Linked DNA regions of Homo sapiens. The protein of the gene in region 1 purifies or fractionates together with the protein of each later gene. This does not show direct contact. Each region holds a gene or a part of one and is shown in the gene's direction. Other genes may lie near its edges.

What was found.
Region 2: the proteins of SFT2D1 (region 1) and TSPAN3 purify together in Homo sapiens (affinity purification with mass spectrometry; one large-scale study listed by BioGRID and IntAct). This does not show direct contact.
Region 3: the proteins of SFT2D1 (region 1) and HERPUD1 purify together in Homo sapiens (affinity purification with mass spectrometry; one large-scale study listed by BioGRID and IntAct). This does not show direct contact.

What each region holds. Positions count from the first base shown.
Region 1 is NC_000006.12:166,335,945-166,339,671, reverse strand, and holds part of SFT2D1 (vesicle transport protein SFT2A), read left to right. Parts: intron 1-3,727. UniProt on the Homo sapiens protein: May be involved in fusion of retrograde transport vesicles derived from an endocytic compartment with the Golgi complex.
Region 2 is NC_000015.10:77,064,415-77,068,141, reverse strand, and holds part of TSPAN3 (tetraspanin-3), read left to right. Parts: intron 1-3,727. UniProt on the Homo sapiens protein: Regulates the proliferation and migration of oligodendrocytes, a process essential for normal myelination and repair.
Region 3 is NC_000016.10:56,930,642-56,934,241, forward strand, and holds the start of HERPUD1 (homocysteine-responsive endoplasmic reticulum-resident ubiquitin-like domain member 1 protein), read left to right. Parts: upstream 1-1,500; 5' UTR 1,501-1,603; coding exon 1,604-1,750; exon of another isoform or gene 1,751-2,653; coding exon of another isoform or gene 2,654-2,674; intron 2,675-3,600. UniProt on the Homo sapiens protein: Component of the endoplasmic reticulum quality control (ERQC) system also called ER-associated degradation (ERAD) involved in ubiquitin-dependent degradation of misfolded endoplasmic reticulum proteins.

The sequences.
Region 1 (3,727 bases):
GTTGATGGGTCTCAGAAGTTAAGAGCAGATTACCCGTGGAGGTTATCAGTTGTCACTTCCACGAGAGCAGTCTTGGTGGCTGGATGGGGTCAGAGGCCTGATTGAAGTCAGGGGAGAATAGAAAGAAGATGGAGATGGTATGGCCATCTCAGTGATTTTTCCTGTGGAGCAAAGAAGTGGGTGGTAGTTGAAGGATGCAGTGGGGTCGGGGAACATGTCATTTTCCCAAGGAAAATACTGGATGTTTCTGTGCATTGGGAATGGTCCAGGAAAGGGGAAAATTATGGTGCAGGCAAGAGGGAATTGTTGCTAGGGGGCTATTGAGGAGTGACTTGGAAAGCAGGTTTCTCTAGGGAGGAGGAAGGGGCAGGAAGTGGCAGTGAGGAGGGCAGACACCTAGCTCACTGCCTGTCCAAGTGGTACAGGATTCACAGGGGAGAGCCCTGGTCCTGGAGACTAAATTTCAAACCTAGCCGGAAGGTGAGAGGATCATCAGAGAAGAGGGTGAGGACATAGGGAGGTTTGCTGTTGGTTTTTGGAGATGGGTAGGAGATGAGATGGGATTAAAGGCGCACAGACCTGAATGGGGTGAGGGATGACCTGAGAGTGTTGCACGTCTTGTGCAGCAAGACGTAACCAGGATGGCGGGCACATTGGAATTGGGTCTTGACAGGGATGGTTCTAGGCCAGTTGAGGAGTTGGGCGAGGCAGTGAAGGTCATAGGGGAGCATCCTGACATCCAGGCTGCATCATCCTCCTATGCAGGCGCTTTGAGCCCCGGGGAGAGGCACGGTAGCCAGAGTTCTGGGACCTCTCCTTCGAGATGCCTGGGAAGAAGTCAAGGAGGGAGAGATATTGAGCCAGATCTTAAGAGAGTTGATCATATTCCTCCCCTGATCACATCCTTCATTGACTTCCTGCAGCACTTGAGTAAAATCCAGATCCCTCCCTTGGCCTCTCAGCCCTGCACTGCTTGTCGGCCCGCCTCCCCACCCTCTCCCCAGTGCTTGCCTTGCCCTGCCCTCTTTCTCCTCCTCAGTTGGAGCCATTTTCTTCTGCCTGGGAGACCTGGCAGTTGCATTTCTTTTTTCAGGAATGCCCCTTCCTGGCTCTTTTCAGAGTTGGATTGGTCACTTCCTGATGTCTTCACTTGGTCACCTCTTTAGAGAGGCTCTTCCTGACCCAGTTACTCTGCCCCTATTTATGTCCTTAGTAGAACCTGCCTCATTAGTTTATTGCCCATTTTCCCCCATCTGAATGTAAGTACGCTAGGTGCTGTCTTATTCCTTTCTGTGTATGTAGAACCTACCAAGTACCTGGTGTCTAATAGCTGTTCATAACTACTTGTTGAACAAACAGATGAGTGAGTTGTTTGGATTTGGGTAACTACCAAGGAGAGCTGAGGGCATTGGCATAAGGTAATTGTTGGGAGTTAGATGACAAGAACATAATGCCGGAACATTCTACAGAGTTCTCTTGTGGGAGTCCTACTAACCCCTGCTGACAATTTGCGAGATGTCTTAGTCCATTCAGCCTGCTGTAATAAAATACCTTAGACTTTGTGATTTATAAACAACAGAAATTTATTTCTTACGGGTTTTGAGGCCGGAAGTCAGAGATCAAGGTGCACTCATGGGTTCTTGGTGAGGCCTCCCCCTTCCTGGTGTCACACTGTTGCCTCTGGTTATATCTTGACATGGCAGAGAGCAGAGAGCTTTAGTCTCTTTCTCGTCTTATTAGGGCGTGGATCCCATTCATGAGGACTCCATCCCCATGACCTGATCATCTCCTGAAGGGCCATCTTCCAGTACCATCACCATGGGGTCGAGGATTTCAGCAAACACTCAGACCATAGCACACAGGTTGAGACAAGTCATTTGCTTGTTGACTGAGTTATTTCATATTTACAAATGGCATTAATTTATCATGTTTCACTTCAAAGATCACCGCGTGGAAGATGGTAATAAGAGAAAAATGCCTAATAAACAATTTAAGCTCTCTCTGCCTTTCCCACTTAGAAGATTGTAAGTATACCTACCTTATCTATTTCCCTCACTGTTCCCATGGTAGGTGTGGGTGAGGTGGTTAGGGGGAGTGTAGAGAAACACAAGGAGGAAGCTGTCTTTCCAGGTAGAAGGAGCTAAGGCGGCAGAGGAGACCCCAAGCAGGAGCAGCTGGCGAGGCGGGAGGACAGTCAGGAGAGCCGGTGGGACATGGGAGTTGAAGAGAACATTGTAAGCAGGAGGGAGTGCCAAAGTGTCCTGTGCTGTTGAGTTGGAAAGGATACTGATGCTTCAAAAATGTTCCTTGGAATTAAGGACACGGAAGTGACTTGTGTCTGCAGGGTTTCAGCCAGGGGAGGGCTGAAGCTAGAATGGTCAAGGTGAGCTTCCCAACCACTGTGCCAGGCGTGTGCCAGCTGGGGGTCCCGTCTACTCCTACAGCCTCAGATAAGGATTCCTGGGAAATAAGGCACTGGGCTAGGAAGGGAACTACATGAAAAAGTGTGGTGGGCCGAAGGGCCTGGGACCTTGACTGCACCTCCCCAGGGGCTACACTGCCTGGGCTGTGCTCCAAGTCTGGTGTGCAGAGGGAGCTTTCCCCGGGAGGCCTGCCTGCTAGAGCCTGTGTAATTGCCTGTGGCCAGCCCCAAAATCACTCACAGTGCTGTGGTCTGAATGTCTGTGTCCCCCCCAGAATTCCTATGTTGAAACTTAATCCCCAATGTGATGGTATGAGGAGGAGGTGCCTTTGGGATGTGATTAGGAATGGGTTTCATGCCCTATTAAAAAAGAGGCCCCAGGCCACATGCAGTGGCTCATGCCTATAATCCCAGCACTTTGGAAGCCTGAGGCAGGAGGATTGCTTGGGCCCAGGAGTTCAAGACCAGTCTGGGCAACATGGCGAGACCCCGCTTCTACAAAAAATTAAAAAATTAGTTGAGCGTGATGGTGTGTGCCTGTGGTCCCAGCTACATGGGAGGCTGCGGTGGGAGGATTGCTTGAGCCTGGGAAGTTGAGGAAAAGAAGGATCCATTGCCCTTTCCATCGTGTGAGGACTCAGAAGGTGTCATCTGTGAACCAGAGATGCCTCACCAGACGCCGAATCTGCTGGCGCCTTGATCATGGACTTCCAGTCTCTAGAACTGAGAGAAATAAGTGTCTGTTGTTTATAAGCTACCCAGTCTACAGTGTTTTTTTAAGAGAATTAAATAGTTTATTAGCTACATACAATTATGGATGATACACAAGCTTCATTCCCATCTATAATGTTATCTGGTACCATTATTCAGTTTAGATATATTGCATGGGATGTGCCAACAATCATTTTTATAACTAATAATTCTGTGACTTTGCTTGGGTGATCCCCTTTGGTGGTGAACTTCAGGTCACAACAGTAACTGTCAGTTCAGCTACACCGAGCTCACTGAAGACAGTGGCTTCTCCACCCGAGCAGAGTGTAAATAAGTTCCAAGTAGAACCTGGCATCACCCTGAAGGAATTCTGACTTCACACTCTTGGGGGAGTTTACCAAGATGGCTTCCGAGGAGACTAACTTTACACAGCACGTTTTTTAAAAGGACACATTTATTCAGTCTCATGATCAGACTATTACATTTAGCAATCAACAGCATGAGTGCAAAAGAAAAAAATTACATTAAAACCCTTTGTTGGAATGCTTGGTACTTTCCACAGAACAGAAACGAAAATAACCTGTTAATAAAATT
Region 2 (3,727 bases), on another chromosome or scaffold:
ATTAGTTTGTGGACTAACTGTGGGAATCTGATGATGATGGGTAATGGCAACTAACATTTGAGTTACTATACCCCAGGCACTGTGCTAAACACTTTACATGGCATATCCTCACAGCTTTCCCATCTAGCAGGGAATATTAGGTACATTTTAGAGGAGAACATTAAGGTTGACTGAGCCAAAGTAGCACACCCAAGGTGTGATACAGCCTGCGTTCAAACCCAGGTTGTCCCATACTCTAGAGACTGTGATGTTAGGACAAAGTGTGATTTCAGAAGATTTGTAAAGAGAAGAAAGTTGTTAGAATCACTTCTCTAAAGCATGCTGATTTTGAGATTGCTAAAATTAGAAACTGTACCAGAATTTACATGACACTTTGTTTGGTTTTGAATTAAGTCATTATGAGGAAGTACATTAAAAAATGTTAAAAGGTTCTTCCTGGGAATTTGTAATGCATTCTTCAGTTCTAATAAATGTATTCTTATATGCTGGCCCCTCCCTCCTTTTAATGCCTTGAGATGATGAATAAGTGGAAGAATAAACATACTCTCCATAGAGCTTATCAAATGTTTACCTAGGTTCCCTTGGGCAACTGTAGGCAATAAAAACTATGTTGCATTGGCTCTTCACTGTCAGATGGTAATGGCTGATTGTTAACAAGGGTCAAAGTTTAATTGCTTTGGCAAGACCTTTAAACTACACTTTCTTATGTCTTGATATCCTGATTCTGCTGGCATTTTGTTCATTGAACTGTGACATGGAGATAGATATATACCTGAAATACTCAGGCTGTAAATTATCTGACAGCTAAAATCGTTACTGTTGATTTGGTGTAGATAGTTTGGAACAATGCTGTAATAATGTTACTGTGGAAAGGCACAAACCAAAAGCAGAAACAATCATTTCTAAAATCCTGAAATTTGTCTTAATGGAAATAGGGAACTCCTGCTATGGTTAGAATGTTTGTCCTTTATAAAACTCATGTTGAAACTGAATCCCCAATGTGGCCGTATTGAGAGATGGGGCCTTTAAGAGGTGATTGGGTCATGAGGGCTCTACCCTCATGAATGGATTAATCCATTCATGGATTAATGGATTAATGGGTTTTCATGGGAATGGGACTGGTGGCTTTATAAGAAGAGGCAGAGAGACGTGAGCCAGCATACTCAGCCCCCTCACCACGTGTGATGTCCTGGGCCACCTCAGGACTTTGCAGAAGGCCCTGACCAGCTACGGCCCCTTGACCTTGAACTTCTCAGCCTCCATGTATGTAAAAAAATTTCTTAAATTACCCAGTTTCAGGTATTCTGTTCTAAGCAACAGAAAACAGACTAAGACAGTTTCTCACCAAATTCTAGAATATTAAGATTTGTAGCTTGAAAGATAATCTTGGACAAGTGAAAGGATGTACAGCTTGGATCATCTTGGATCTCTGTTTTTATGGAATGATGAGGCTTTAAATATAAGTGTATTCATGCTGGACCCATGAGGATTTATTGAAGAAGGTTAGAAGTGTTTTAGGTAAATGACTAAATTTTAAAGGCTTTTTTTTTTTTTTTTTTTTTTTTTTTTTGAGACGAAGTCTTACTCTGTCGCCCAGGCTGGAGTGCAGTGGTGCGATCTTGGCTGACTGCAGCCTCTGTCTCCCGGGTTCAAGCGATCTTCCTGCCTCAGCCTCCCGAGTAGCTGGGACTACAGGCGTGCGCCACCATGCCCAGCTAATTTTCGTATTTTTTTAACAGAGACAGGGTTTCACCATATTGGCCAGGCTGGTCTCGAACTCCTGACCTCTTGATCCATCTGCCTTGGTCTCCCAAAGTGCTAGGATTACAGGCGTGAGCCACCGCGCCCAGCAAAGGCTATTGTATTAAATAGGCATTAGCCTATTCTGTAAACTGCACCTTTGTACCAAGGTCAGACAGGATTTTTAGTTTGGTAAGTCATTTAATCTGACCAAAGAGGGCTCGTCTAAAACAAGTTTAAATCAGTACTTCCTACCATTAAGTTTTTATTCCGGTAAATTAATTGATTATTTAATCAAGTCCTATGTTATACAAATTACCTTTACTTTTTTTTTAAACCCTATTAGAAAAACTAATTGGCTAATACTTATTTTGCTCATATTTATCTTAGGCATTACAGGGACTGGAACAGAAAGCTTTGTCCATGCTTATAGAATTTATAATCTTAAATATCTATTTAGGTTGTTGTTTTTCATCTGAGAGGTGATAGTATAAAACTGAGACACCTGTAGAGTGGGGGAAGTACCGCAAAAAAGTCAAACGCCTTTTAAATAAATGCCTTTAGAAATAGCTTTGGAACGTGGCACCTTCACTAACCATCATTCATTCATATGAAATACTTCACACATATAAATTGTAGTTGAAAGCCATATGTAACCTTTAAAACTTATCCTGCCTTTAAAAATAAAACTTATCAGCCAGGTGCGGTGGCTCATGCCTGTAATCCCAGCACTTTGGGACGCCAAGGGTGGCAGATCACCCTCCTGACTAACACGGTGAAACCCCGTCTCTACTAAAAATACAAAAAATTAGCCAGATGTGGTGGTGGGCACTTGTAGTCCCAGCTACTCGGGAGGCTGAGGCAGGAGCATGGCGTGAACCCGGGAGGCGGAGCTTGTAGTGAGCGGCGATCGAGCCACTGCACTCCAGCCTGGGCGACAGAGCGAGACTCCATCTCAAAATAAATAAATAAATAAAACTTATCACGCTTATGTCTGTGAATGTATATAATTAAGGAAAATTTGCTTTGTTAAATATAACACTACTATTTGAGCACCTACTTTGTGCTTATATTGTTGATAAATGATGAAAAGACAGTGAAAAATCCCTATTCTTACAGAACTTACTTTCCGGTGAAGCAAGACACACAAAAATAAACAAGAAAAATGATCAGAGTGATGTGTTATGCAGAGAATTAAAGGGTGATGTGATAAAGTGATTGGGTCGTGCTTTATGTTGGCAAAAAAAATCTGGAGTATAAGAAGTTGCTGACTTGGGTGATTTGGAAGAGATTGGGAGACTGGGGGGATTCAGAACTGAAGGAACAGGCTGTAGGCTGTAAGGCAAAAATATACTTGCTATGTTCAAATTACTAAGAGGTTTATACCGTCATGCTTTTGTTTAAAAAATAAAACTTTATAATGAGGTATTTCAAGTGTGGTTCTCCCTTGTCACAAATCTTGTACATACTTTGTGTTTTCCAGCACATCCTACACATTCGAGGTGGTAATATGATACTTTTAAACCGGAACCTGCATCTGATATCCTGGAATTTGTTTCTCTACTTCCTGTATTTCTCCTATCATGAATGACTGCTCTGACAAAGAATATGTCATGGGACACACCTTCAGCTAACTTTGCTTTTTCATGCTTGTTTTCAATTCACTAGAAGAAAATCTAACTTGTCAGGAAGCAAGTACATAATAGGAAGTGTCTGTCTTAGTTTGTCTTCAACAGTTAAGAAAATGAATGTTTCCACTCTTACTACATTCTTAGTCACCTGTCCACTGACCAAGAGCCTTGTGGCCCTGAGTAATCATTTAGAACTTGGAATCAGCAGGGGCGCTCTCTCTAGTTGCAGTTTAGGGAATGGGTTATTAGCTTTCTAGGATATTTATCATGCTTTGAAATAATTTAATGAATTTTATTCCATAAGATCCAATTCAGGTTAGGCTTGTTTGATTTTTTTTTTCAGAAAATGTATTCCA
Region 3 (3,600 bases), on another chromosome or scaffold:
TTGCCACTCACTGATAGTGTTTTGATATGAGTCTGCAAGCAATTGATTTATGATGGCCTCTGTGCAGTGAAACCTCTCTGCTAATGTTAATCCGTATTTGCAGCCACTCTCAGCACTAGCATCAGCAACTCAGCTCCACCTCCCATCATCAGGCATTCGATTCTCGTAAGGAGCACAGCCTAGTTCCCTTGCGTGCACAGTTCACAATAGGGTTCGGCTCCTGTGAGGATCTAATGCCCCCTGATCTAACAGGAGGCTGAGCTCAGGTGGTAATGCAGCGATAGGGAGCAGCTGTAAATACAGATGAAGCTTCGCTGGTGGCTCACCTCCTGCGGTGCCGCCTGGTTCCTAATAGGCCAGGGACTCATAGTGGTCCGTGGCCCAGGGGGGTTGGGGACCCCGTCTTAAGCCATCCAGTTTGTGGCACTTTGTTATGGCAGCTGCAGCAGATGAATATACCCACCAACCAGACCAGGCTCCTCCTGTTACCTTCCTGACCTTGACAAGCTCCTGACAACACCTGAAAAAACAGATGTCCCAAGGGGGTTGGAACAAGGAGGGAGCCGGGGCAATGTCAGTTTTGTTTTTCAAGCCTTTTTTTTTTTTTTTTTTTTTCCTACAGAGGAGGAGGAGGGAACGCCTACAATAAAGAGGCCTTTATGGTCCCACTTCAGGAATCGGAGAACCCCGCCCTCCTCGTCTCAGCCCCAATTTAACGGGTGCATGTGTGAGTATCTTATAAAGTGACGCGTTTTGAGGGGGACTCCAGTGTGAGCAGGACTGTGGCTGACTTGTCAATCATCATTAGGGTGATGTCCCAAACGTTCAAGTCTGAGGCCCAGGGAAATTGGCAACAGCTGCCTGGATGCCTCCATCCTCCCAGCCCAAGGAAAATCTGGCCTTGCTCCTTCGTTGTCTTTCTTAGGAGCACGTGGAGTTCTCCTAGGTGGGCTTGCACTCGGGGTCGCCCAGCCGTTCTTTGAGGGTTCGAGTGGGTAGGCTTCCCCTGTAGGACGGGCTTCCCCGTAGGTTTCCACGTGGGGCCACAGAGGCAGGAAAAGGGGAAGTGGGCACTGACACCTGGGGTGAAAAAGGGTGGGGGTGCGGCTTTGTGAGGAAAGAATTTGCAGAGACTGCTAAACTGGGGTCTGCTAGGATACCCCACTCCCCACCCCCTGCCTCGGGCGCCCTCAGCCACCCGAGCTGGGGGCCTCGCAGGTCTCAGACCAAGCTCCCCGCGCGGCCTGCAGCGCACCCAAACATGGCCACCGAACCCGGGTTCCCGGGGCACAGCCGCGCCTCTGGGTGACGCAGACGCGGCGGGTTGCATCAGCCCGTGCCCACGTGCTCGGTCCGCCCTCTGCCACCCGGATCCGGACGCCGATTGGGCCACGTTGGGAGAGTGCCTCCGCCTCAGCCAATGGGCGGCAGCCACAGAGCGTTCTGTCCGCAGAGCCGGGCGCGGGGCTTCTATAAAAGGCGCCCGAAGCGGGGGCGCGCGCCCCAGAGACGTGAACTGTCGTTGCAGAGATTGCGGGCGGCTGAGACGCCGCCTGCCTGGCACCTAGGAGCGCAGCGGAGCCCCGACACCGCCGCCGCCGCCATGGAGTCCGAGACCGAACCCGAGCCCGTCACGCTCCTGGTGAAGAGCCCCAACCAGCGCCACCGCGACTTGGAGCTGAGTGGCGACCGCGGCTGGAGTGTGGGCCACCTCAAGGCCCACCTGAGCCGCGTCTACCCCGAGCGTCCGGTGAGAGCGGCCCCGACTTCCCGCCCCTAGGCTGTGGCCCCCCGCCCTCTGCTGGGGATGCCACGTCCGGCTGCCCTGTCCTGTGGCCTCCTCCCGCTGACGGCTGCGATCGCTCGGCCGGTCACCTCCCCCAGGGCTGTGGTCTCCCCTTCCCTGCCCCGCCGACGCGGGCGCCCCTCTGTTGCCCAGTAGCCGTCAGTAATCAGCAGCCTGACCTTGGGCGAGTCATTTCACCCTCCAAGCCTGTTTCTCCCCCAGCGGCCAGGCAACTCGGTGTTCCTAATTGGGCTTGCATCCAATGGCTAGAAGTAAGAAAACATCCGTGCTGCAAAATGAGGTTTCTGAACGCAGCCTCTCTGCAGGGAGAGGAGCGGGCAGGTGCCACCCGGGGCCGTGGCTTGAGAAACCTGGGGACCGCCCAGACACTGTGGACGGAAGGCCCCACACCCAGAAGCAGGACGTGGCTCTTCTCCTCCCTGGCCACCTTCCGCCGTGCCCCTCCCTGTCGCACTGGACCGAGCAGCCATTGCCGAGTCCCGGGGTGGAGCCCCGTGCACTTTCTGACCAAGAGCGACTGAGAAGGGAAGCAGGCAGGAGTCGCCTTCAGTCTGGTTTTAGGACGGCAGCCTCTCCATTATTAGCAAGACTTCCTTGCTTTGTTTTGGTTGACACATCTGTCAACATCACCCTTAGCACCGCCTGCCCTGGCCACCACGTGATGAGGCTGTAAGCTGGCCCTTCCTGTATTTACTTTCTGCTCTGATATTATGTAAGTGTCAGCAGTGTTCTTCACTGCCCACGAGCATAATTCTTCATCACACAGGAGAGGGCATCCGGGCAGGAAAAGATAGTGAAGTCGTGAGTTCCAGCTTGTGGTAGCGCCTGTGTCTGTTTTTGTTTCATATGGTCAAGAATGTTTTAGAAGTGAGTTTTCCTTCTGAGTTGTTATTTTGAAATTTGCATATTTATTTAGTAAGCTTGCATTCCATGTCCTCTAGAATTCACCCTGGCACATTTTTCAGTTTCACCATAGCTGCTTCCAAGAAACTGGGTGGCTGTGTTGCCATGAGAATGACTATTGGGTACACAAATTGGTGAAGCAGGTGTAGCCTATGGTTGCATCATATGGCAAAAGGCAGGATTTTGGCGGAGGATTTTTAAGGTCTTCCTTTGATGAGGAATGCCGCTCCCATCTGTTCAGTCTGAAGACCTAACATTGTAAACAAATACCTCTCAGGTATACAAATTTGTGTCTAAAAATTATTATGGCTGAAACATACTTATCATTTGTTTTCTGTAGTAGAAAATGGCATAATATGAGAAGGCCTACTTTGTAATAGTTGTTTGCTTTACTTAATATTTTTCAAATCAGCCATCTGTGTGAAGACTCAATATCAAGTTAGGCCTTTAAAAGGGGGAAAATAATTCAAAACCACTGGCAGCTGTGGTTTTCCGGCCTTTTCTATTGGTTGAACTCTGTAATAAATGCAGGACCCTACATATACAAAAGGTACTGTTTTCCAAATTCACGTATGTATTAGCATTTACCTTTAAAGTTCTCATCCGTCAGAAAAACGGTGAACACAGCATTCAGTATATTTATTTTGGTTTAGTTACACAGTGTCAAAAAGTTCTGATGTATATGGATAAGTAGATGCACTTTTTGCTGTTTTGTTTGTTTAAACAGCTTGCTTTAATTATCTCAAGCTACTTGGCAGGAACACCTTTATTCCAGGTTTCGCATAATCAGTTATTCTGGCAAGAGTAGATTAACACGTTAGTGATCTCCAATAGACAGATTATATGTTAATATTATTTGAGGCCATTATTTTTAAGTACAATTTAGACGG